7 linked regions of the Homo sapiens genome follow. The protein of the gene in region 5 purifies or fractionates together with the protein of the main gene of each other region. This does not show direct contact. Each region holds a gene or a part of one and is shown on either strand. Other genes may lie near its edges.

Region 1 (3,500 bases), on a different chromosome or scaffold from region 5:
TCTCTGTTGACTGAATGCATTCCCAGAGCTCTCCGTCTTCTGGGCTCTACCCTCTAACACCCAGCACCTGATCTGGCCCTGTTTGCATCACACACTCTCAAATGCCACAGGCCTCCTTCTCAGAGCACAGCAAGGGACACTGGCATGGCTCAGTGTCAGCCTCAGTCAGCATCTGTGGAATGACTGATCAAAGCCAGAGTTCCCCAACTTGAACACACATGAAGTATCACCCAGAGCACTTGTTAAATACACATCTACCTGGGTCCCACCCCTAGAGCCTGGGTTGGAAGCTGTGGAGTGGGGCCCCGAATTCTGCATTTTTTTTCTTTTTTTCAAGGCTCCAGCAATGTCTTAGACATTTTTTTGGAGACAGGGTCTTGCTGTCATCCAGGCTCCAGTACAGTAGTGTGATCATAGCTCACTGGAACCTCCAGCTCCCGAGCTCAAATGATCCTCCAGCCTCAGCCTCCCAAATAGTTGGGATTATAGGTGTGCATCACCATACCTGGCTAAATTTTTTTTTTTTTTTTTCCTGAGACAAAGTCTCGCTCTGTCACCCAGGCTGGAGTGCAATGGCACGATCTCGACTCACTGCAACCTCTGCCTCCTGGATTCAAGCAATTCTCCTGCCCCAGCCTCCCAAGTAGCTGGGATTACAGGTGAGTGCCAACATGCCCAGCTAATTTTTGTATTTTTAGTAGAGACGGGGTTTCACCATGTTGGTCAGGCTGATCTCGAACTCCTGACCTCGTGATCCACCCACCTCGGCCTCCCAAAGTGCTGGGATTACAAGCGTGAGCCACCGCGCCCAGCTAACTTTTTAAATTTCTGTAGACACAAGGTCTCACTATTTTGTCCAGCCTGGTCTCAAACTCCTGGGCTCAAGAGATCTTCCTATCTCGGCCTCCCAAAGCACTGGGATTATAGGTGTGAACCACCACGCCTGGCCTGTGTTTTAAAAAGTATCCCTAATGAGGCCGGGCATGGCAGCTCACACCCATAATCCCAGCACTTTAGGAGGCCGAGGCAGGTGGATCACTTGAGGTCAAGAGTTTGAGACTAGCCTGGCCAACATGGTAAAACATCGCCTCTACTAAAAATACAAAAATTAGCCAGGTGTGGTGGCACACACCTTTAAACCCAGCTACTTGGGAGGCTGAGGCACGAGAATCACTTGAACCTGGGAGGCGCAGGTTGCAGTGAGCCAAGATCACACCACTACACTCCAGCCTGGGTGACAGAGTGAGACTCCGTCTCAAACAAAAGAAGAAAAAGTATCCCTAATGAAAGCAGGTGATTCTCAGACCTCAACTGGAGGAAGGCTTGACTGTGCATCTTGCCTTTGCACCTGCACTGTGAGTGTCCTGAGCACTCGTTACACATGTGCTGTGATTCCCACCCAAATCACGGCCTGAGTATAGGTGCATGTCTTCTAAGATTTCAGTATCCTAATGGGAATACTAGCATCACAACTTCACATTTACAAAGCCACTTTCATATTCAAATCTTTTTGCAAAGTTACCCACTCGGAAAGATAATAGTAACATAAAGGTAAGTGGAAGAAGCAGATTGCAAAATAGTTTGTATGTATGTGTGTCTCTGTGTGCATATTGTAATTTTTATTGTGTATCCTTTTAAACTACCACAAAAGGTTTGGAACAAGGCATGGTATAAAGAAATAAGTAAACAAATAAATCCCTATGCCTGTAGTGAGGATATAAGGTTTGTTTTGTTTTGTTTTGAGATGGAGTCTCACTCTGTTGCCCGGGCTGAAGAGCAACGGTGCGATCTCAGCTCATTGCAACCTCTGCCTCCTGGGTTCAAGCAATTTTCCTCCCTCAGCCTCCTGAGTAGCTGGGATTACAGGTGTGCCCCACCACGCCCAGCTAATTTTTGTATTTTTAGTAGAGATGGGGTTTCACCATGTTGGTCAGGCTGGTCTCCAACTCCTGACCTTGTGATCCGCCCGGCTCGGCCTCCCAAAGTGCTGGGATTACAGGCATGAGCCACCGCGCCCAGCCTGATATAAAGGGTTTATCATGTGTACTTTCAGTCATATGTCTTGCTTTTCTCCCCCTCTTTTTTTTCATAAGTAATATGTTTAGTAAAGAAATTTGGAAAGCATAACAAACTAAAACAAATTAAAAATCACCTATAATTTTGTCCACTATTACCTCCCAAAAAAGAAAAAAAGAAAAATCATTTTCATCTACTTCATTTGACCTTTCCAACCACCTTGTGGGGTAGGTAGTAGATTACTGGCTCCATTTTATGGATGAGGAGACTGAACCCCAGTAAGGTGGGTGATTTGCTACCATCGTCACTCTGTGCATTGGGAGCATAGTGGGACCCAGGTCTCTAGATTCCTAGTCTATTGCTCTTTCCTCTGTACCCAGAGGACCATTTTTCTGTGAGGGCTGTCACTATTTCCTCTGGAGCACCCACCCTAACCCCTGTGCCTGGCTCTCTACTGTCTACACCGACTCCCAGTAGTGAACTGATTCCCAAGCCTGCAGGGCCCAGAACTGAGAGGACCTCAGGTGAGTACCAGGGAAGCCTCTGTCCATCACACCCAGACCTGTGTTCCCCTCCACCTCTCCTTGACCTTCAGGGCAAAGGTGCTCACTGGCCACAGTGATGTTGACATCCTGTCTCCGCTGACCAGCCAGGTTGGCCGCGTGGCAGGTGTAGACACCAGCATCACTTTCAGCAATATTGGCCAACACCAGCTCGTGGCCCTTCTGGTAGACCCTGCCATGGGTGGGCAGCCGGACTCCCGCGTGCTCCCACCACACGCTGGGCTCTGGCAGACCCTTGGGGGGAAGGCAGGTCACACGCTCCTCGCTGCCAGCTGTAAACACCCGTGGCTCAAATAGCGGCATGTCTTCAATCTCTGCAAGGACATAAGTAGGAGGAATGGCCCAATTATTGTGGGTCTCAGGGTACATGATGTTCTCCCACAGCAAGCCTAGGCCCTTTCCCAGCACAAACCCTCCCCTGCAGCCCTCTGCATATCCTCTTCCTACTCCCAGCATCCTTTTCTTCCCCTGCCCTCCAAGCGGCTGAGTAAAAACAGAAGCCTAAATCTCTATGTGCCAAAAATGTTAAAGGCAGCCTCCCACATCAGCACCCCAGACCCAGAGACTCACCTGCTAGGTGAAGTGTGGCTTCCAGGATGATGGGTGGGCCCCTCTGCCCCTGGCCAATGCAGCGGTAGATCCCTGCATTGCGTGGCCGGACCTGGGTCAGCAGCAGAGACCCGTTGGCAAACACTGTGGCTCTGCGGAGGTGTGGGGGGCTGCAGAGGGGAGAGTGCAATTTGGAGAAAGTGGCCAATAGGCCTAGTTCTGGAAAGGAATGCAAGGGAACCCCTTTCCTGCAAAGTCGGAAATGTAGTAAGGAATCGACCAGGAACAGGGCAGAGAGAAGGAAGCTGACACTCCAGACTGGTGTGTGTGCCTGCATACACTTGCTCAGGTGCACGTGCAGGTGTGTGTTCC
Region 2 (3,500 bases), on a different chromosome or scaffold from region 5:
CAAAAGCCATATGCAAAAAAATAAAATACCTAGGAAAACACTGACCAAGGAGGTGAAAGATCTCCATGAGAACTACAAAACACTTATGAAACAAATCATATATGTCATAAATAAACACAAAAACATCCCAGGCTCATGGATTTGGAGACTATCATTAAAATAACCATACTGCCCATAGTAATCTGTAGATTCAACACAATTCCTATCAAATCACCAATGTCATTTTTCAGAGAACTAGGAAAAACAATTCTAAAGTCCATACAGCACCAAAAAAGGGCATGAATAGCCAAAGTAATCCTAACCAAAAAGAACAAATCCAGAGGCATCACATTACTTGACTTCAAATTATACTACAAGGCTATAGTAACTAAAATGGCATGGTACTGGTACAAAAATACGCACACAGATCAATGGACTACAATAGAGAACCCCAGAAATAAAACCACATACTTACATCCAACAGATTGATCTTTGACAAAGCTGACAAATATAAACAACAGGGAAAGGACACCCTAATTCAATAAATGGTGCTGGGAAAATTGGCTAGCCATATGCAGAAGAAACTGGATCTCTGTCTCCCAGCATATACAAAAACTACCTCAAGATAGATTAAACATTTTGGACATTGGCCTAGGCAAACAACTTATGACGAAGACCCCAAACACAAATGCAACAAAACCAAAAATAAACAAATGGGACTTAACTAAAAAGCTTCTGCACATCAAAAGATAATCAACAGGGCAAAGAGACAAACTACAGAATGAGAGAAAACATTTGCAAATTATGCCTCCGACAAAGGACTAATATCCAGAATCTACAAGACACTCAAACAACTCAACAAGAAGAAAACAAAGAACCCCATTAAAAAGTGGGCAAAGGGCCAGGCGCACTGGCTCACGCCTGTAATCCCAGCACTTTGGGAGGCCAAGGCGGGTGGCTCACAAGGTCGGGAGATCAAGACCATTCTGGCTAGCACAGTGAAACCCTGTCTCTACTAAAAATACAAAAAATTAGCCGGGCATGGTGGCAGGCACCTGTAGTCCCAGCTGCTTAGGAGGCTGAGGCAGGAGAATGGCGTGAACCTGGGAGGCGGAGCTTGCAGTGAGCCAAGATCGTGCCACTGCATTCCAGCCTGGGCGACAGAGCAAGACTCTGTCTCAAAAAAAAAAAAAGTGGGCAAAGGACATTAAGAGACATTTCTCAAAAGAAGACATACAAGCAGCCAACAAACATGAAAAAATGTTCATCACTAATCATCAGAGAAATGCAAATTAAAACCACAATGAAATATCAATCATCTTACACAAGTCTGAGTGGCTATTACTAAAAAGCTTAAAAAAAAATAGATGTTAGCATGGAGGTGAAGAAATTGTAACACATATATGGGTGGCAGCAATGTAAATTAGTTCAACCACTATGGAAAACAATATGGAGATTTCTAAAAAAAAACAAAAAACCTACCACCAAGCCCCAACTCCAACATTAGGGATTACAATTCAACATAAGATTTGGGTGGGGCACAGATCCAAACCATATCATTCCGCCCCAGCTCCTCCAAAATATCATGTTCTCACATTACAAAATACAATCATCCCTTCTCAACAGCCCCCAAAGTCTTAACTCATTCCAGCATTAACTCAAAAGTCCAAAGTCTCATCTGGGACAAGCCAAGTCCCTTCCACCTATAAGCCTATAAAATCAAAAACAAGTTAATTACTTCCAAGATACAATGGGATTATAGGCATTGGGTAAATAGTCCCATTCCAAAAGGGTAAAACCGGCCAAAAGAAAAAGGCTACGGGCCCCATGCACGTGCTAAAACCCAGCAGGGCAGTTATTAAATCTTAAAGCTCCAAAATAATCTCCTTTGACTCCATGTCTCACATCCAGGGCATATTGCAGCAAGGGGTGAGCTCCCAAGGCCTTGGGCAGTGCCACTCCTGTGACTTTGCAGGGCTCAGCCCACGCGGCTGCTGTCAAGGGCTGGCAATGAGTGGCTGCAGCTTTTCCAGGTGCATGGTGCAAGCTGTCAGCGGATCTACCATTCTGGGGTCTGAAAGATGGTGGTCTTTCTCACAGCTCCACTAGGCAGTGCCCCAGTGGGGACTCTGTTGGGGGCTCCAACCCCACATTTCCCCTCTGCACTGCCCTAGTAGAGATTTTTCCATGAGGGCTCTGCCCCTGCAGCAACCTTCTGCCTGAACATCCAGGCTTTTCCATATATCTGAAATCTAGGCTGAGGCTCCCAAGCCTCAATTCTTGGCTTTCAGCACCTGCAGGCTTAACAGCATGTGGAATCTTCCAAGGGTTTGGGCTGGCACCGTCTGAAGGCCTGAGCTATATCTGGGCCCCTTTCAGCCATGGCTGGAGCTGGAGTAACTAGGATGCAGGCAGCAGTGTCCTGAGGCTGGCAGGGCCCTGGCCCAGGAAACTGTTCTTCCCTCCTAGGTCTCTGGGCCTATGATAGAAGGAGCTGCCTTAAAGGTCGCTGAGATGCCTTGGAGCCCTTTTTCCCATTGTCTTGGCTATCAGCACTTGGCTCCTCTTTACTTATGCAAATTCATGCAGTCTGCTTGAATTACTCCCCTATAAATGGGTTTTTCTTTTCTACCACATGGTCAGACTGAAAATTTTCCAACTCTTCTGCTCTGTTTCCCTTTTAAATGTAAGTTCCAATTTTACATCATTTCTTTGTTCATGAATATGAGCACTGGCTGCTAGAGGCCAGGTCACATCTTGAACACTTTGCTGCTTAGAAGTTTCTTCCACCAGATACCCTAAATCACCTCTCTCAAGTTCAAAGTTCCACAGATCCATAGACCAGGGGTACAATGCCACCAGTCTCTTTACTAAAGCATAGCAAGAGTGGCCTTTACTCCAGTTCCCAATAAGTTCCTCATCTGCGGTCATTCTGAGCCCTCCTCAGCCTGAACTTCACTGTCTATACCACTATCAGCATTTTGGTCACAACCATTCAACAAGTCTCTAGGAGGTTTCAAACTTTCGTTCCTCTTCCTGTCTTCCTCTGAGTCCTCCAAACTGTCCCAACCTCTGCCCATTACCCCATTCCAAAGTTGCTTCCTTCTACAATTTCAGGTATCTTTATAGCAATGCCCCACTCCCAGTACCAATTTTCTGTATTAGTCCATTCTCACATTGCTATAAAGAAATACCCGGAACTGGGTAATTTTTTTTTTTTTTTTTTTGAGATGGAGTTTTGCTCTGTCACCCAGGCTGGAGTGCAGTGGTGCAATCTCGGCTCACTTCATCCTCTGCCTCCCAGGTTTAAGCAATTCTCTGCCTCAGCCTCCCAAGTAGCTGGGATTTCAGGCGCCCACCTCCACAACAGGCTAAGTTTTTTTTTTTTTGTATTTTTAGTAGAGACGGGGTTTCACCATCTTGCCCAGGCTGATCTTGAACTCCTGACCTCGTGATCCATCCACCTCGGCCTCCCAAAGTGCTGGGATTACAGGCGTGAGCCACAGTGCCCAGCCGGAACT
Region 3 (3,500 bases), on a different chromosome or scaffold from region 5:
GCAGTGAGTTAGTGACTGGGTAGTAAAAAGGTGGAGGCCTTCCAGTGTCAACTACTCCTTCAAAAACAGTTGTCAGTAAAAGTTAAGGGGATAGAAGGTTTTCTGGGGGATGAAAAAATGAAAATACTTGTTTATATAGCAAACAGTTTTATAAAGATTTCACATTTATTTCTTTTTCCAAACTGCTATTTTGACTAACTGTAATAGAAAGTCATTTGCCTTACAGCCATCAAATGAAAAGCCGAAATGCCCAGAACTACCACCATTTCCATCATGTTTGTCTACGGTCCACTTCATTATATTTGTTGTGGTGCAAACTGTATTATTCATTGGTTATATCATGTATAGGTAAGTCTCTTGATAAAATGTGACCCAATATTTTTCTGCATCTGTTTAATTAGAAATATTCAACTAAGTTATCTATGTTCATAATACAATTTTCACCACCTATAAAATTAAGTTTATTGTGATTTCTGTTCATTTCAGTTCACATAAAGTGCACGTGTAGAATATATGTTTATCTTAATGCGTTGTATACTTCAAAAGGCATTGATATTTTAATTTTAAATAGTCCTGTTTCTTTCCAAAGTTAAGCGTATAGAACTTCTTTAAGTGTTTGTTTCTTTTTTTCATTAGGTCTCAGCAAGAAGCAGCTGCCAAAAAATTCTTTTGACTACCATTTTCCTGTGTACTTCATCTATTTGTGTACAAAATGATGTCGTTTTGAGGGAATTTAAGTATTTAAATTGCTTCATAGTCTAAATTATTAATTTTCTTAATAAAATAACTGTTTAAACATTGATTTGCAGTTAAGAATAAACCTTAAAGCAAAGACAACCACATTTTAATTTGTTCACAGTATGTAAATCTGTCTAAATTTCAGTGAATTTCTGGTCAGTATGATGCAGCCTCTGAGCAGAATATTGACCAGTAAGAGGGTAAATAAAGTGGGGGCAACCCCTGGATATGAATGTTACCCCCTAAGTCTCCAATATTGCAGGTTTCCCTGTATAACGTAAACACACTTGCCCTCATGCCTCCCAGAATATGAGGTCTAATTAAGAAGTCCCATCAGGTTTATTTTGTAACCAAAGTCTTTTTTAGAGGTCAGACTTCCTAATCAAAGGCCTGGGCCTGCAGTCCTTTCATCTTAATGCAACTTCCTTTGAAATCAAAGAATATTTTGTCTGAGAGCTTTAAGGATCTGGTAATAGACTTCAAAATGTTAAGTGAAATTTTTTTTTCCTCTATTTATCAATGATATATTTCACTTTTAAAGGAAATTTTAGAGGAAAATTAATAGCTGCTTTTTGCCTAAAAAACCTTGTGGGTGGAAACATTCCTCTGAGAATGGCTTTTATAGGTATTTTGCCTGGTAATGTATTCATTCATGATTGCCCATATTCTTGAATGTCTTCATTCCAATGGGGTCAGGTCAATATTATGAAAATAATTTTTATATTTATATTTGTAACTTAAGGAATTTATTTCTCCCTTTACTACAGCATGTAAATTCAGCTCAAATTGCATGATCTGAGGATTTAAATTCACAAAACCTGCCACTACATTCTGGTTTACATTAGTTACTTCATGCTGGCTGGGGTTAGTGACCATTTGCATACTCTTTTAAATCAAGGAGGCTGTAGTAGAAGCAGTTTTAAGATTCTTGAAGGCAAAATTTGAAAAACAGTGAATACTTCTAATTGTTTCCTTTTAGTGCCAGAACTAAGGACATTGTGAAGCACTTGTTAGTAAACTTAACCTTGAAATGTCAGACTGGAAGGAGTTTTTATAGTCTTTGTGCATACTTCTAGGTATTACAGAAACAGTCTGTAAATGACATTTTAAGATGCAAATTTAATTCTGTTCACAGCTGATTTATACTGATTTTTGCTGCCTTCAAAATACTCTTTTACTTCTTTTAGCTAAAATGGTTGTCTTTCATTTGCCATAGAATTCCAAACAATACTATCTTATAAAATAGTACTGTTGAATTATTCCAAGCCTCCCTAGGTTTGCTCTCAAATGTCATTTACAGATTGGGCTAACGACCTAAAATCTATATATAAAGACTTTCTGAAGAACTCTGTATTATAGCAATACCAAACGAGTGCTGTGTGTGCAAACAGTCTGGCGTTGCTTTTTATGTTGATATTTATCCTAGAACACTGAAAGAGAATATGCCAGTGATAACTCACTTTACTTCAGTCATTTCAACACAGAAAATGCTTCTCTAGCATTTTTCTTTTGTAGTGTTAACATTTTGAAATTCATGTTTCAGAGGCTTCATCATCACAGAATTTACTCTTGCTCCATGAAAAAAAATTAAATACCTTCAGAGGAATATTTAAGTTGTAAACTATGAAACTTGAGAAATCCTCTTGAGATAAAAGGCTGCCAAATCCAGTATTATAAAGTCCATGGTCATATGTGCCTGTGCATTAAAGGAATACCAGATCTATGCAGTATACATTTTTCAGGCTGAAATTCAAGGGGAATCATTCTGATTATTCTTACTACAAATGGAGATGGCTATTATGAAACAGCATGAGCATGAGCCTTTTATCTTTTATACTTAGTGATATACTTTGCTTGAAAATCACTCAGCAAAGTAGTTCACATGATGTGTATCATATTTGAAGTGTGGTTTTTCTCAAAATCATTGACTTTAAGGAGCTCATTTCTGAACAAAAAGGTTTGCTCTGTGGAAAAATCAATCACTGCCAGGATTCTTTCATTTCTGTACTATTTTGTATAATTGAATTTGTTCACTTCTCTCACACCAGCAAGTGTTTTACAGGTGCCTTGGATTAAAACAAAATTGATTTTAAAATTTTTATGTAAGTCATTGTGTCTATGATGCCACTTTTAAAAGGAAAATGCAATTGCGTAATGGCTTATATCCTTATTTAATGTACCTATTTGTGTTCTAATAATTGTTTGAATGTTTTATTCAGCTTAAAACTTTACCATGAAGTCATAAACAGTAAACAATGTTTTGTTATGTATTAAGGGGATATCAGTGTTTCTCAAAGTATGATCCATGGACCATCTGGGTCATGGCGCCTGGTTTCAGACAACCTGAATCAAATCTTAGGGGTGGGGCTTTGGGATGTCATTGTTCAATAGGCACCTCAGGAGATTCTGAGCACACCAATGTTTGAGAACCACTAAAATGAGGAGTGGGAAAAAAAAAATAGGTGTTTTGTTAATTTAGAGCTGAGCTGAGAAGATAATATATTTTTATTGTCAATGACATTAACAGATATGCACTGATTCTTTTATACCTACAATTTACTTAATGTTCCTTTTATTAAAACGCGTGGTTCATGAGCAACTACAGACTGAATCCAGATTATTACCTGTTGCTTTCAGTATTTTCGTGATGGCTTTTAATCTTATGAAATCATCTTGAGATCATTCATGGTCAAGCCATGAAAACTCCCATCTTCAAGCCTGCCTGCTAAAGCTTCTTTGCCTTCCTGATTGTGATTATGGTA
Region 4 (3,100 bases), on a different chromosome or scaffold from region 5:
GGGTGCTCGTGAGTGAAATGTGAATAGGATCTTGGAGGGTTGCTGGGAGGATCCCAGCAGACAATGTGCAAAGCATTTAGCACAGTGCCCAGCACCCAGAAAATACTCAGAAACTGAGAATGCGATTAATATTGTTGCCATGAGCCAGGCACGGTGGCTCATGCCTGTAATCTCAGCATTTAGGGAAGCTGAGGCAGGAGGATTGCTTGAGGTTGGGAATTGGAGACCAGCCTGGGCAACATAATGATGCAGAAATACAAAAAGTTAGCCAGGCATGGTGGCGCGCACGTATAGTCCCAGCTACTCGGGAACCTGAGGTGGGAGGATTGCTTGAGCCCAGGACTTGGAAGCTGCAGTGAGCTACGATTGCACCATGGCACTCCAGCCTGGGCAACAGAGTGAGACCCTAAAAAACAATATAGGCCAGGTTCGATGGCTCATGCCTATAATCCCAGCACTTTGGGAGGCCGAGGTGGATGGATCACTTGAGGTCAGGAGTTCAAGAGCTGCCTGCCCAACACGGTGAAACCCCATCTCTACTCAAAATACAAAAAAATTAGCTGGACGTGGTGGCAGACACCTATAACCCCAGCTACTTGGGAGGCTCAGGCACTAGAATCGCTTGAACCCAGAAGGCAAAGGTTGCAGTGAGCCAAGATCGCGCCACTGGACTCCAGGCTGGGTGACAGAGCGAGACTCCATCTCAAAAAACCAGAAAGAGAGAGGACCTAGGGCCTAAGGGGTGAGCTTGCTGGGGAGGAGGAGGGACACATGGGGATGAGGATACGGTGTTAGCAAAGGCAGGCAGGCCAGCAAGAGCAGGAGGCCGGGGAGAGTGGGCCCTCGGGCTTGCTTTGGGAAGGAGGCTGGACATGTGGGCTCTGGACAGGTGGGCCCTGACCCCCAGGGGATCAGGAGCCTGAAATCCTGAAAGGGGGACTCGAAACCTTAAGACAGAGCACTTTTCCAGGGAGCTCAGGAGGCTGAGACAGAAAAGCCTCAGCTTCCAGTGTCAACAGCCTTTTCCCCTCCTTCCAGCCAAAGACAGCAGCATTCCCAAGCGCAAGAGAAAGCGGGTCTCGGAAGGAAATTCCGTCTCCTCTTCCTCCTCGTCTTCCTCTTCCTCGTCCTCTAACCCGGATTCAGTGGCATCGGCCAACCAGATCTCACTCGTGGTAAAGTTGCACCGATTTGGACTCCGGCACTCATCTCTGTGGCCCTCACCCCTCTGTCTGGCAGGGCCGTCTACTCTGGGATGTGGGCCCAGGGGACGGGGAGGCACTGGGCTTTGAGTGGGGACCTTCCGGCCTCGGGGGTTATAGATGCATCCACCTGTCTCACCCAAGAGGTAGCCCATCCTTCTCGTGGGGTACTCACAGGCACTCAGGCAGGAATTCACATCCTCGCTGGGCAGATGGGCCGGCTGAGGTCCACCTGCCCACACCCTTCAGCCGCACCAGAGCTGGAGACATGAAAAGACATGGCTGGCGGGTGCAGTGGCTCACGCCTGTAATCCCAGCACTTTGGCAGGTCAAGTCGGGTGGATCACCTGAGGTCAGGAGTTTGAGACCAGGCTGACCAACACGGGGAAACCCCATCTCTACTAAAAATACAAAATTAGCCGGGCAAAGTGGGGCATAGTGGCTCATGCCTGTAATCCCAGCTACTTGGAAGGCTGAGATAGGAGAATCGCTTGAACCTGGGAGGCAGAGGTTGCAATGAGCCGAGGTCGCGCCATTGCACTGCAGCCTGGGCAACAAGAGTGAAACACTGTCTCAGAAAAAAAAATTAGCCAGGCATGGTGGCACGTGCCTGTGGTCGCAGCTACTTGGGAGGCTGGGGCAGGAGGATCATTTGAGCCCAAGGGGATTGAGGCTGCAGTGAGCCAAGATCGTCCCATTGCACTCCAGCCTGGGCAAGAGAACGAGACTCCATCTCAAAAATAAATAAATAGGCTGGGTGTGGTGGCTCACGCCTGTAATCCTAGCACTTTGGGAGGCCGAGGCAGGCGGATCACTTGAGGCTCAGGAGTTCAAGACCAGCCTGGCCAACATGGCAAAACCCCGTCTCTACTAAAAATAGAAAAATTAGCCGGGCATGGTGGCGGGCGCCTATAATCCCAGCTACTCGGGAGGCTGAGGCAGGAGACTCGCTTGAACCCGCGGGGCCAAGGTTGCAGTGAGCCGAGATTGCATCACTGCACTCCAGCCTGGGCAGAAGAGTGAAACTCCATCTCAAAAAAATAAAAAATATAAATAAATAGCCTCTGAGAAAGCTCTTCCAAAAGCAGAACTAAGCATTTTGGGTTTGTTCCGCATCACCTGGAGTCCTAATCCAGTCCCTTTGTCCCTCTCTCTAGCAATGGCCAATGTACATGGTGGACTATGCCGGCCTGAACGTGCAGCTCCCGGGACCTCTTAATTACTAGACCTCAGTACTGAATCAGGACCTCACTCAGAAAGACTAAAGGAAATGTAATTTATGTACAAAATGTATATTCGGATATGTATCGATGCCTTTTAGTTTTTCCAATGATTTTTACACTATATTCCTGCCACCAAGGCCTTTTTAAATAAGTAAAAAAAGAAAAAAAAAAAAAAGAGTGTTGCCTTTACTTTTACGGTCACTGTTTCATGTTCTCTTTTGGATCGTGGCCGCAGCTGTCACTGGGGACAGGGTCAGGAAACGCAGCTCAGGTGGCCTGCCAAGGCCCTCCTTCTTCATCACAGCAGAGGTAGTGTCCAGGAAGACCCCAGAGCTCTCTGTGCTCCTGGGAGCACGTGACCTCAAGAAGAAAAGCCACGGAAGGAAAATGTGCCACGGGGCCGGGCGTGGTGGCTCATGCCTGGAATCCCAGCACTTTGGGATGTCGAGGTGGGTGGATTGCTTGAGGTCAGGAGTTCGACCTCATTGGCCTGTAATACCGATGCTTTGGGAGGCCAAGGTGGGAGGATTGCTTGAGACCAGGAGTTTGAGATGAGCCTAGGCAACATAGTAGAACCCTTTCTCTAGAAAATGTTAAATGTGGCTTACACCTGTAATCCCAGCACTCTGGGAGGCTGAGGCGGGTGAATCACCTGAGGTCAGGAGTTTGAGACTA
Region 5 (3,500 bases):
TGATGTCATATACGAGAATGTTAGCAAGTCCTAGTTCAGAATCCGGAGCAGTAAGTGGAGAAGAGCTCTCCACGAGTGCTCAGTCTTAGAACTATTAGAGGGGGATGTGATGGATGGGACAAAAGACAGCAGTAGCCATTTGTATTGACTCTGACTTCACATGAGTATTTCTTCCCAGCTCCTGGCCTCACATGGGTGGTCACAGGGAGAAACAAGTACTGTAGCAGATCTTTGAGTTTCAATGCACCTTGGTTGGTGTTGGCAACAAACAGGAGCTTCTGCACATCATGATGACTTTACCTCCATTCCCTCTACCCAGAACCCTAAATTATTCTGTTATTGGATCTGTGCCTGTAATATCAGGATACTACCATCCAAATCTATCTAGATATCTTGTGCAAATATTTTATTGATTACAAGGGCTGTATACGGGGTTACAAAAAGACATGAGCTGGATTGGACACTCCTAAAACCAAAAACAACAGTGACAATAGAGTCTCAGGATAGCAGAGTCTGAAAATACCTTGGTCTCCCCCATTATGTGAGCCCTTACTTGAGAGCTTCATGAAGACACTTGTAACATATTCAACGTCCTGTACTCCAGTTTTGACTACGAGATCAGATTTTGGAGGTGTAAGTAAACTTGGCTGAGGTAACAGTAATCTGCCCATTTAGTTCAGTAAACAGACTGTAGAGTGTCTGACTATACTGGGGGAAGAGGAGCCAATGACAGGGTAGGGAGATGACAGTGGTGCATGATGGGAGAATCATGAAAGTCTGGGAAGCATATGGACCAGTGGGAAGGATAGGATTAGCACTGCACCTCTACATCCATCAAGAGAGACAGAGCGCACAATGGAGCAGGAAGGATAAAAAATAAAGAAAGACAGAGAGAAACAAATTTGCTGGGAGAGGGAAAGACATTCAGACCCACAGAAAGGAGGCAGCACACAGAGAAAGATGCACAGATCAACCCACATCTGCATGGGTTGTGAGACTGAGCATAGTGAGAGCAGTGGTGGAGCAATAGAAGATTGCTGTGACACCAGGCTGCTTACTGTCTTTCTTTGTCTCATTCACAGGAGAGGACATGATGTGCGCCCATCCTCCCTTGCTTCCAGATTGTTTTAGTGGGCCCTGATGGTCATTTTTCTAAACAGAGGCCCTGCTTTGTAATATGTGGCCAAGGAGATAATTTATCTCACAGAAGCACCGGGAAGACTTAGCCTTAAAGAGCCTACAGTGTCCTTTTGGACTCTTTCACTTCGGGACATTTAATAATGGACCAAATTCAACAGAACACCAGGAAGGTCAAGACGCTCTCCAAAGGGCAGGAAGTACAGCACTTCCGAAGAGTTTAGTTGGCCCTTTGCTGGTTGGGCTGAGTTTTTTATTTTTAAGTGTTTGTTTTTCAGTGCAATAATTTTTGTGTGTGTGTGATTCTTATCAGAAAGTTGAATTGTTTTCTGCCTACACCGTTCATCAGCCCCATAACCCAGGAAGGAACAGGCATTGTTAGCATCAGATTATACCTCATTATTAAAAGGAGGCATGGCCACACATGAAGAAATGGTCATTCTACTTCAAAGAAATTGAGCCAGCACTATCTGTACTCCAACATTACCGGATCTGGATTGGGGAGGTTGGTCAGGGAAGAGAGGGGTTCTACCCACAGATCAACTGTGTAATCTTTTACTATTCAAGCTATAATTCAGCTTCAAAGTAGAGTAGAAAAAAAATTGTCTTAACTGTTCTAGTTCTTGATGGTTTTCTTCCTTATTAACAGTTGGTGTTTCTTCCTTGGCCCTTTTGGACTAATGTTACTGTCCAAGTTCTTTCTCAAGAAACCACATCTGGTTCAGAAGAGTGTCAAGTTGGACTCTTTGAACTCTGTTGCTGTCTGAGCAATCGTGGTGCCTAGACTTTGCATTCCTTGTTCTGTTGACCTGCATACATGTGAGAGCTATTTCTTTAAGAACTATATAGGCTGTGAAAACGCACTTTCTTTCCCCCAAAGAGCTGGGAATTTATGAAGTTATGGCAATGAACTGCAGCATGCTGGGACAATTATTTGACTACTTTTTTTTGTAATATTGTCAAATGTCTCTATGGATTCTGACAGAGATTTCTTTTTGTTTTGTTATTCTTTTGGTTGTCAGTTTCATTTTAACGAGTGTAACTAGTAACATTTTATTCTTTGGATTTTGTATAATTACAGTACATGATTGTGTATTGTGACATGAATGCTGTCAAAATGACATTGATGGCATTGTGAAGCCTGTTACTTTGTGTCACTTCCTGATAAATAAGAGGTGATGACATGGATATACAACAGAAAACACTTTGAGTTGAAAGTAAACACAAGCTGGCTGCTTCCCTGTGGCAACTGTGGCTATTGTGAGCCTCCGTGTGTGTGCTTCCAGGAGGCTTTGCTCCTCTTCATGCACCCGACACTGCCCCTTCCCTGGCTTCCCTCCATCCCTGATCATCTTCATGAAGCCACAGATATAAGATCAGCTTAATATTTTATCAGTGACCTTAGTGTTGGTGAAGGATGCCAAATGAACAGCTCTGCACCCCACCGTCTCTTGTCACTGAAAAGGCTTGGCCATGGCAGACCTTGGCAGAGTTTCTTGCAAGATCTGGCCAGTGAGTCTCAGTTTCACCTTGCAGGGTGAATGGCAGAGGATGCCCATACCCTGCAGGTTAACAGCTTGGGCTCCTCAGGGGTTGTCAGTTCCTACTCACCTCCCTGCTACCACCTCCTCCTCTTCTTCTCACCCCCGACTCCTTTATTTCCCTTTTTGGACATTTTAATAATGTGTCGCACCATTCTCAGGAACAAACATGGTTAATGAAAGGTGGCAAAGGGATGTGTGACATTCTTAGATTTTCACACATGGGCAGTCAGGAGTGAAATGTGCAACCTTGGAAGAGCTGATACAATGTATGGTAAGCTGAAGTACGTTTCCAACACTGCTGCTCAGAGCATACAGAAGTTTTGCATCCTGGAACATTGCTTCCCATGAAACAAAGCACTTCATAAATATTTTATGTTTTTCTTGAGCACCCTTTCAAGGTAGGGATCAAATAGTGCCAGATCAATTTTCCCAAAAGGAAAGAGGAAGTATCCAGAGTTTAGACTGAAGGCTTAGAGTCAAAACTACAGGAAGGTCACACTGTTCTCTGGAACACTGTTGCTCTTCAGTTTGTAGAGTTTATGATGGAAAAGGCATCAGTCTGTCAAAAGACTTGTTTAATCCTGATAATGACTTTGGAATTATCTCTCCTGGGTCTCAGTTAATAAACTGAAGAATGACCTAATCATAACTCCATATCTTGCAACAGGTATAAGAAGTATCAGATACGATAATTGACCCAAAGGTGCTTTGTGTCTTGTTCTCTCATGTATGTTCCGTAAGGCTACTCTAACCAGTTCTGTTTCCACACCAGGACCCAACTTTAAGCATTCAGAAGGGAGGCTTCCAGAGCCTCTGTAT
Region 6 (3,500 bases), on a different chromosome or scaffold from region 5:
CTTGATACCTGCCGAATAAAAAAAGGGTGACCTTTCCCACTGTCTGACTCTGTGGAGTGTTTTAAGTGCTCACAAATGGGTAAATACCCTTTTTATGTACATAGAAACTGTTTTCAAACAAAATATAAAGTTCTCAAGAATTATTAGGAAGAAAGCTTTTCTCCTAAGAATCAAAGAAACACAACAATCTAGGTATAAGTCTGCATAGCTCAAAAATTCAAGTACAGTATTTCTCTTTCAGAAGGAGTAAAATGCCATACAGTTTCGGACATCCTCCCTCATTTTTCTTCTTTCCTTCTTTGACCACTCCTTTTATGTTAGTTTGGACACACAAAAAAAGAAAAACTACAATTTTTAACTAAACAAAAGCACTATTTTTGATAGTGAAAAAAATTCAAAGCCCACCATACTAAACACGAATTCAAGTTACTCCTATCCCACATTCTCTTTGTTCCTTTAAGGTACTATGGTGAACTTCAAATAATTGTTTTTCAATTTCTCAAAGGCTCTGTTTTAAAATATGCTTCTAATATGCTACACTATCATATAAAATGAAAATTCACACATGGGTATGATTCAGAGAGAAAGTTTCTATGATCTATGATGCCAAAAGGCAACTTAAATTGCATTCTTAGTGATAGTGATAAAAGTCACAATGAAAACCACTGGTGTTACCAAAATGCTTGCCACGAATGTAGAAATACTAACCTAAAGTATATCTACGGCAGGGAGTGATAAAGGTGTACAGATCTGGGGACTATCACCATTTATGAATAAAATAATTATAATTAAAGCTAACTCAGTTTGGAACAGTTTCCTATGGTAACGCTATAAAAGATGAAAAAGAAAGTCTTAAATATTCAAAAAATTTAACCTTTTGGCCTTGTTTAGCTTTTCAATACAACAAAAATTTTAAAAATCTGTAGCACCTGGCTATTCGGCAGGAAAAAAACACAATAGTTACAGACATTATTTAAACTTTTTTTCAGAAAAATAAAGAATTAATCAAAACCCCAAATCAAAGTAGATCTGCACACCTGAGGTCAGTTCTTACAGTGCATGCTTTATTGTCTTCGTTACCATATTCTTCAGAGCTAACTTTGTACCACATTCCAATGCCATCTATCAATAAGAAGCAACAGATGGCTGACAAACCAGCGGCCTGAAGTGATGGCGGCTCTTAGGGTAGAACTTTCCTTGTTTTACTGTGTCAGTAACTTTCTGGATACTGAGGAATAGAACAGAATTCCAAAACAGGGTTTTTGTCCCCATCTGTGTATCTTCAAAGTAGAAAAATTACTCATTGTTTTTGTAGATGGTTGGCATTTAGGTGAATATAATTTTGTAATAAATAACTACATACTGCCCAAAGACACTTCAGAAAAGATGGATGAAAAATACAGTCAGGCCCTGAGCTAACTAGAACTCCAAAGAGTGCAAACAACTTGGCAGCGATCCTGGCTTTACCTTGGCTTTTGCAAAAGCGGCAGAGCCCAAGCTTACAAGCTCTCTGAATGGGCAACAAAATGAGGTGCGGTTGTGCATGCTACAGCCACCATGTGAGACTTTTGAGGTTCTTCTCCATCCACTGGATATTCAACTGAATGACTTCCAAAGCCTCCTGGACACAACGAAGCCGGAAGGTTGCCTCTGACTGATTTTCAAAGAATGCCTGAACCTGTAAGTTTCACACAGAAGAATTTCAAAAGAAGAAAAGGACGATAAACCTCAGGTAACCCCAGCTTTTAAAATAAGCTTTAACTTAGTGATGGCTGTGCTGCTATCTTGAAAGCAGTAGAAAGAAGTACTTTAATATTCAAGGTATCTACATGGAGTTCCCAATCAAGTATGGTGATATCTGAAATGATTTTAAAAAGGAAATCTTTTTACTCCCACACAGATACATTTTTCTAACTTAAAATGGAACCAAGGAGATGTTTAAGTAACAATAAATAAAGTAGAGTCCAAAGGCTTGGTGCTATGAATTCACCCCAAGAATGCAATTCTTCCAAACAATTTTATGACCACTTAAATTATTTGTATTAGGGAGACAAGGGAAGAGAATGGAATCAGATTTTTTCCTCATTATCATATATGCCACCCTCTAGAAGTAATCACAATGCAGAATCATTAGTACTGATAAAGGAAGACAGAGATAAGAGAAGGAATTAGCATGAAAATCCACCATCTCACTAAAACTGAGCAGCCTGGTCCGGGTGTGCGGAGGGTTGCCCAGTCTCTGTATTATCATTTTATAAAACCAACCTCAGATAAATGTGTCTTTGTTGAAAACAGGTAAGTTGATCCAGCAACAATATTTTGTATGGTATAGGACCCCAGAGGGAACCTGAAGAAACACAAAAACAAGAGCAAAAAGATTAGGCAGCTGCTGGTAAAGCGTTGTTCCTGAGTGCAAGGAAAAGTCTTTAATGCCAAAGCCAGAGTGGAATCCTCCTCCCGGAACTGCAACTGAGGAAACCGGGGTAGCCCTATGCATACTTATTGTCGGTGGGAAGGAAAGGTGGGCAGAAAAAGGGAAGAGTTCAGAACATGCAGACAATTAATCCGCTTAACATTGTCGAAGATCACACTGTACACCCAGAAATGCCATTATTGATTTAAAAGAGAGAAAGAAGCAAAAAACCTACATCTGCATCTAGCTGAATGTGAGTTCTTAACTGATGCCTTGGCAATGCAGAGGTATTTTCCTTTTTGTTTTTTTTTTTTGAGACGGAGTCTCGCCCTGTTGCCTAGGCTGGAGTGCAGTGGCACAATCTCGGCTCACTGCAAGTTCTGCCTCCCAGATTCACACCATTCTCTTGCCTCAGCCTCCCAAGTAGCTGGGACTACAGGCACCCGCCACCATGCCCGGCTAATTTTTGGTATTTTTAGTGGAAATGGGGTTTCACCGTGTTAGCCAGGATGGTCTCGATCTCCTGACCTCGTGATCCGCCCATCTCGGCCTCCCAAAGTGCTGGGATTAAAGGTGTGAGCCACCGCGCCCGGCCATACAGAGGTATTTTTCAATATGCATAGCTAAATGGTTGCTATGAAATAGTCTGTAGCCACGCTGAGCTAAGTAACCTGGTGCCAAGCAAGGCTAGGCTTAATTAGAACTTAGATGGAATGCTACTGTTAAATGATTCATGCTATGGAATTATGTTAACAAATGTGAAAATTTCCGGATGTTTCAGTTAAACTGTCATGGAAGTATTTTTCCTCTCACAGCAAATCCTAACTTCTGTGAGCCAAAACACTGGGAGCTTTTTTCAAATGCACAACTTGAGAATACTAAAAGTTAATAATTCTCTGAGAAACTTACTTCTGTACAAGCTTATTCCAGTTCTCTTTGACAAAATCCCATGCCAGTAAGTGTCCAGGAAAATGTCGACCCACTGTTCTAATGATAAAAGACAGCTTCTGTGTTCGGAAGTTATCTCCATTCAGGCTACTTTTCATTAACCTGAAGAGCAAAGCAGATTTAGCCTCCAAAATTATTA
Region 7 (3,500 bases), on a different chromosome or scaffold from region 5:
CAAGATTTTCATCTTTTTGAGATCCAGCCTCACGAGGGACATATGAATTTTCATTCAGCAGCCTGGAGGAGAAAATGCCTTTTAAATGAACTTAAGTTTACTTTAAAATAAACATTTAAGTCAAGGATTAAACAAATTGTTTTGAAAGCAAAATATTATCCCTCATAGTTCAGATAAATGAACTGTGACCCAAAACTTCTAGACTGACCAGAATATCACAAAAGAAAAAAAATTTTGCCCCAAATCTTGTAACTTCAAAGCTTCTTTACCCACTACAAAGCACTCCTTCAAGAGCCTCATCATAACACAATGTATCTGCTTAGGATAGTTTTAGGGGAAATGAGTAGCTTCCAGATCTACTATAAAATCTAAGATAGTAATACTGTGCTGAACAGAGTGCATAGTTTCAATTCTCACCTACTTGTGAAGCATCTGAATACCCTGAAGCAGAACTGCTCCTTGGTCCGATCTCCCATACTTCTTTCTATTTACTCAGCATATTAGTTCTTACATTTTTGTGGGGTGGACTATACTCTCACTTTAACCATAAGGTCTGGTGTACAGTAAATAAACACAAAAGCATCAACTAGATGAAGTAGAAAATGCCATAACTTAAGACTAAAGAATTATAGTACCACTGTAAGTGTAGGAAGCTTGCAAAAAGGAAAAGATAAATTTATTCTTTGCACAGAGGCATGTATGTGCAAAGATAGTAAAACTCTATGGACAAGTGTTACAGCTCTTTTAGAATTTGTCTAGCATGCTTTCTAGTTTTTGCCAGAAAGCCCATTACAAATAAAATAAATAAATAAATATAAAATAGAAATTTGGCCAGGTGCAGTGCCTCATCCTGTAATTCCAGCACTTTGGGAGCCAAGACAGGAGGATCATCTGAGGTCAGGAGTTAGACACCAGCCTGGCCAACATGGTGAAATCCCGTTTCTGCAAAAAAAAAAAAAAAAAAAAAAAACCCACAAAAATTAGCAGAGCATGGTGGTACAAGCCTGTGATCTCAGCTACTCAGGAGACTGAGGTAGGAGAATTGCTTAAACCTGGGAGACAGAGGTTGCACTGAGCTGAAATCGTGCCACTGCACTCCAGCCTGGGCAACACGTAAGACTCCATCTCAAAATAAATAAGTAAATAAATAAAAATCTAAGAACAGACCGGCCTGGGAGACATGGTGAGACTCCATCTCTTAAAAAAAAAAAAAAAAAAATTAGCTGGGTGTGGTGCTGCGTGCTTATAGTCCCAGCTACTCAGGAGGCTATGGTAGGGGGATGAAGCTGCGGTGAGATGAGAGCACGCCACCGTATTCCAGCCTCCACCAGAGGGAGACATTGTCTCTGGATACTGACTGGCCTAGGGGTTAATGGGTGAGTATCACAGAAATTAAGAAGCACTAGAGACTTAAGGCAGGCAGTTACCCATGATCAAGGAGATGAAAAAGGCTACTTCTGGCATGTGTTGCTTCCTAAAACAGAGAAAAGCTACTGATGTCCTTGTCAGCAAAGCAGAGCTTAGTACAACGTTACAAGAGGTTAAGAAGAAAAATCAGAGCCAGAGAATGACAGCAAGCAATAAGCTACAAAGATGGGGAAAACATCAAGGGCCTATTAATTTTTTAAGAAAAAGGAGACTCCCCAGAGAAGTTCTACCTTTTCCCCTACCAGTATAGTTTCAGTTTTTTACAGGCCCCTTCCCCTCTTTAGCTAAACATGACAAGTCTTGTCTTCTCTAACAAGCCATTCCCCACAGTGTCACCATTATTGTTTCCCCGTGGCCTATCATAATTCTTGAATTACTTGTCTAGATACTTGCACAGCAGCTGGCACTCACTTGATGGTGCCGGTGAAGTCTGTGCTGTCCAGTTTCTCCGACAACTTTCTCTTCAGGTCATCCCAATATAAGCGACGTGCTGCAGGGAAGTCCTCTCCTGGCTCCTCCCTCACTGGAGACTCGGTTCCTGCCAGTCTCTCACACTCAGTTTTTGGTTCTACCCCTTTACAATAGCCCAAGTAGCCAATCATAAATCCTAAAGAGACAAAGTTCCAGAGCTGAACTCAGAATTTCATTTGTAATCTATCCCTGTTAATCTGTTAATATTTTCAGGTAAGCCTTGAAAATACTGGTTTTCATCAAATTCTAAGTAGTTTTAAAGTATATAATGCATCTCAGTTTTGTATACTTTAAACCACTTAATAAATTATATACTAGCTTTATTTCAAATAGCTACCTATTCAAAACATAGGTAGTTTTTTCCAAAAGACCCCCTTGAAACATGAGACTGAGCTGCTGCACCGCCAGTGTCCTGCGGATATTTTCTAGCGTAGCATTTGCTTCCTGGTGGAGTGGGAGCAAACAAAAAAATACATAAATAAAAAGAAAACACTTGCACGTCGTATTGAAATAATTCATGGGTCTCTCTTTCCAACCAGATTAAATTCAATGACAGGTATAGAATCTACTCATGATTGTCTTCCTAGTGGCACTTAAAAAGGCATAAAGTGGACGGGAAAGTGGCTCATGCCTGTAATCCCAGCACTCTGGGAGGCTGAGGCGGGCAGATCACGAGGTCAGGAGTTAGAGACCAGCCTGACCAACATGGTGAAACCCCGTCTCTACTAAAAATACAAAAATTAGCCAGGTGTGGTGGTGCACGCCTGTAGTCCCAGCTCCTCAGGAGGCTGAGGCAGAAGAATCGCTTGAACCTGGGAGGCGGAGATTGCAGTGAGCCGAAATCACGCCACTGCACTCCAGCCTGAGCCACAGAGTGAGACTCCAACTCAAAAAAAAAAAAAAAAAAATTAGCCAGGTGTGGTCGTGGGCGCCTATAGTCCCAGCTACTCAGGAGGCTAAGGCAGAGAATCGCTTAAACCTGGGAGGCTGAGGTTGCAGTGAGCCAACATGGTGCCACTGCACTCTAGCCTAGGCAAGAGAGTAAGCCTCTGTCTCCAAAAAAAAAAAAAAAAAAAATAAGGTACAAAATAACTATATGCTGAGCTGACATAACAGACTTCCCAGAGTTGGTTATAGAAAACATTGAAGTTTGGAATGGTCATTCTCACCAATCAAGAAAAAGACGATCACAGCAATAGTCCCATAGCAGATACTTCCACTACACCTTTTTGGTTTTGTGACATTGGCCTTTGTGTTATTGTCAGCATTTTCTTCTTCATCTACAGCAAGTTTCATCTCCACATGACTGTTATCGCCATCTACTTGCCGAGCCAGGCTGAACCGGGTATATGACAATGGTTCTCCACCAAACTGTGTTGCGGAAAAAGGCATGATGAAGAACAGGCACGGGAATGTTTAGGAAAAGCTCGTTTAGGTATATGCTTGTTATTGGGCCATTACTATAACTTGCTATATATTCCTTAGGGTGTTCTCCTTTCAAACCAACATTCTTCCCTGGGCCCAGTCAAGGGCTAGTTCACACTGGTCTTCTCAGTCAGTCTCTCCCTTTTTGTAAATTTTTTTTTTTTTTTGAGACAAGG

What was found.
Region 1: the proteins of PTPRO (region 5) and PTK7 purify together in Homo sapiens (affinity purification with mass spectrometry; 2 studies listed by BioGRID and IntAct, with this or other methods). This does not show direct contact.
Region 2: the proteins of PTPRO (region 5) and DNAJC3 purify together in Homo sapiens (affinity purification with mass spectrometry; 2 studies listed by BioGRID and IntAct, with this or other methods). This does not show direct contact.
Region 3: the proteins of PTPRO (region 5) and LMAN1 purify together in Homo sapiens (affinity purification with mass spectrometry, with the first as the bait; 2 studies listed by BioGRID). This does not show direct contact.
Region 4: the proteins of PTPRO (region 5) and GTF2IRD1 purify together in Homo sapiens (affinity purification with mass spectrometry; one large-scale study listed by BioGRID and IntAct). This does not show direct contact.
Region 6: the proteins of PTPRO (region 5) and LNPEP purify together in Homo sapiens (affinity purification with mass spectrometry, with the first as the bait; one large-scale study listed by BioGRID). This does not show direct contact.
Region 7: the proteins of PTPRO (region 5) and TFRC purify together in Homo sapiens (affinity purification with mass spectrometry; 2 studies listed by BioGRID and IntAct, with this or other methods). This does not show direct contact.

Annotation. Positions count from the first base shown.
Region 1 is NC_000006.12:43,131,814-43,135,313, reverse strand, and holds part of PTK7 (inactive tyrosine-protein kinase 7 isoform a precursor), read right to left. Parts: intron 3,299-3,500; coding exon 3,150-3,298; intron 2,894-3,149; coding exon 2,627-2,893; intron 1-2,626. UniProt on the Homo sapiens protein: Inactive tyrosine kinase involved in Wnt signaling pathway. Component of both the non-canonical (also known as the Wnt/planar cell polarity signaling) and the canonical Wnt signaling pathway.
Region 2 is NC_000013.11:95,683,639-95,687,138, reverse strand, and holds part of DNAJC3 (dnaJ homolog subfamily C member 3 precursor), read right to left. Parts: intron 1-3,500. UniProt on the Homo sapiens protein: Involved in the unfolded protein response (UPR) during endoplasmic reticulum (ER) stress.
Region 3 is NC_000018.10:59,328,266-59,331,765, reverse strand, and holds part of LMAN1 (protein ERGIC-53 precursor), read left to right. Parts: intron 1-226; coding exon 227-348; intron 349-636; coding exon 637-673; 3' UTR 674-3,500. UniProt on the Homo sapiens protein: Mannose-specific lectin. May recognize sugar residues of glycoproteins, glycolipids, or glycosylphosphatidyl inositol anchors and may be involved in the sorting or recycling of proteins, lipids, or both.
Region 4 is NC_000007.14:74,600,006-74,603,105, forward strand, and holds the end of GTF2IRD1 (general transcription factor II-I repeat domain-containing protein 1), read left to right. Parts: intron 1-1,038; coding exon 1,039-1,175; coding exon of another isoform or gene 1,176-1,292; exon of another isoform or gene 1,293-2,289; intron 2,290-2,359; coding exon 2,360-2,428; 3' UTR 2,429-2,600; downstream 2,601-3,100. UniProt on the Homo sapiens protein: May be a transcription regulator involved in cell-cycle progression and skeletal muscle differentiation. May repress GTF2I transcriptional functions, by preventing its nuclear residency, or by inhibiting its transcriptional activation.
Region 5 is NC_000012.12:15,595,008-15,598,507, forward strand, and holds the end of PTPRO (receptor-type tyrosine-protein phosphatase O isoform a precursor), read left to right. Parts: coding exon 1-34; 3' UTR 35-50; exon of another isoform or gene 51-1,082; 3' UTR 1,083-3,324; downstream 3,325-3,500.
Region 6 is NC_000005.10:97,026,580-97,030,079, reverse strand, and holds part of LNPEP (leucyl-cystinyl aminopeptidase), read right to left. Parts: intron 3,464-3,500; coding exon 3,323-3,463; intron 2,348-3,322; coding exon 2,266-2,347; intron 1,679-2,265; coding exon 1,547-1,678; 3' UTR 1-1,546. UniProt on the Homo sapiens protein: Release of an N-terminal amino acid, cleaves before cysteine, leucine as well as other amino acids. Degrades peptide hormones such as oxytocin, vasopressin and angiotensin III, and plays a role in maintaining homeostasis during pregnancy.
Region 7 is NC_000003.12:196,072,091-196,075,590, forward strand, and holds part of TFRC (transferrin receptor protein 1), read right to left. Parts: intron 3,271-3,500; coding exon 3,069-3,270; intron 2,036-3,068; coding exon 1,840-2,035; intron 789-1,839; exon of another isoform or gene 730-788; intron 63-729; coding exon 1-62. UniProt on the Homo sapiens protein: Cellular uptake of iron occurs via receptor-mediated endocytosis of ligand-occupied transferrin receptor into specialized endosomes. Endosomal acidification leads to iron release.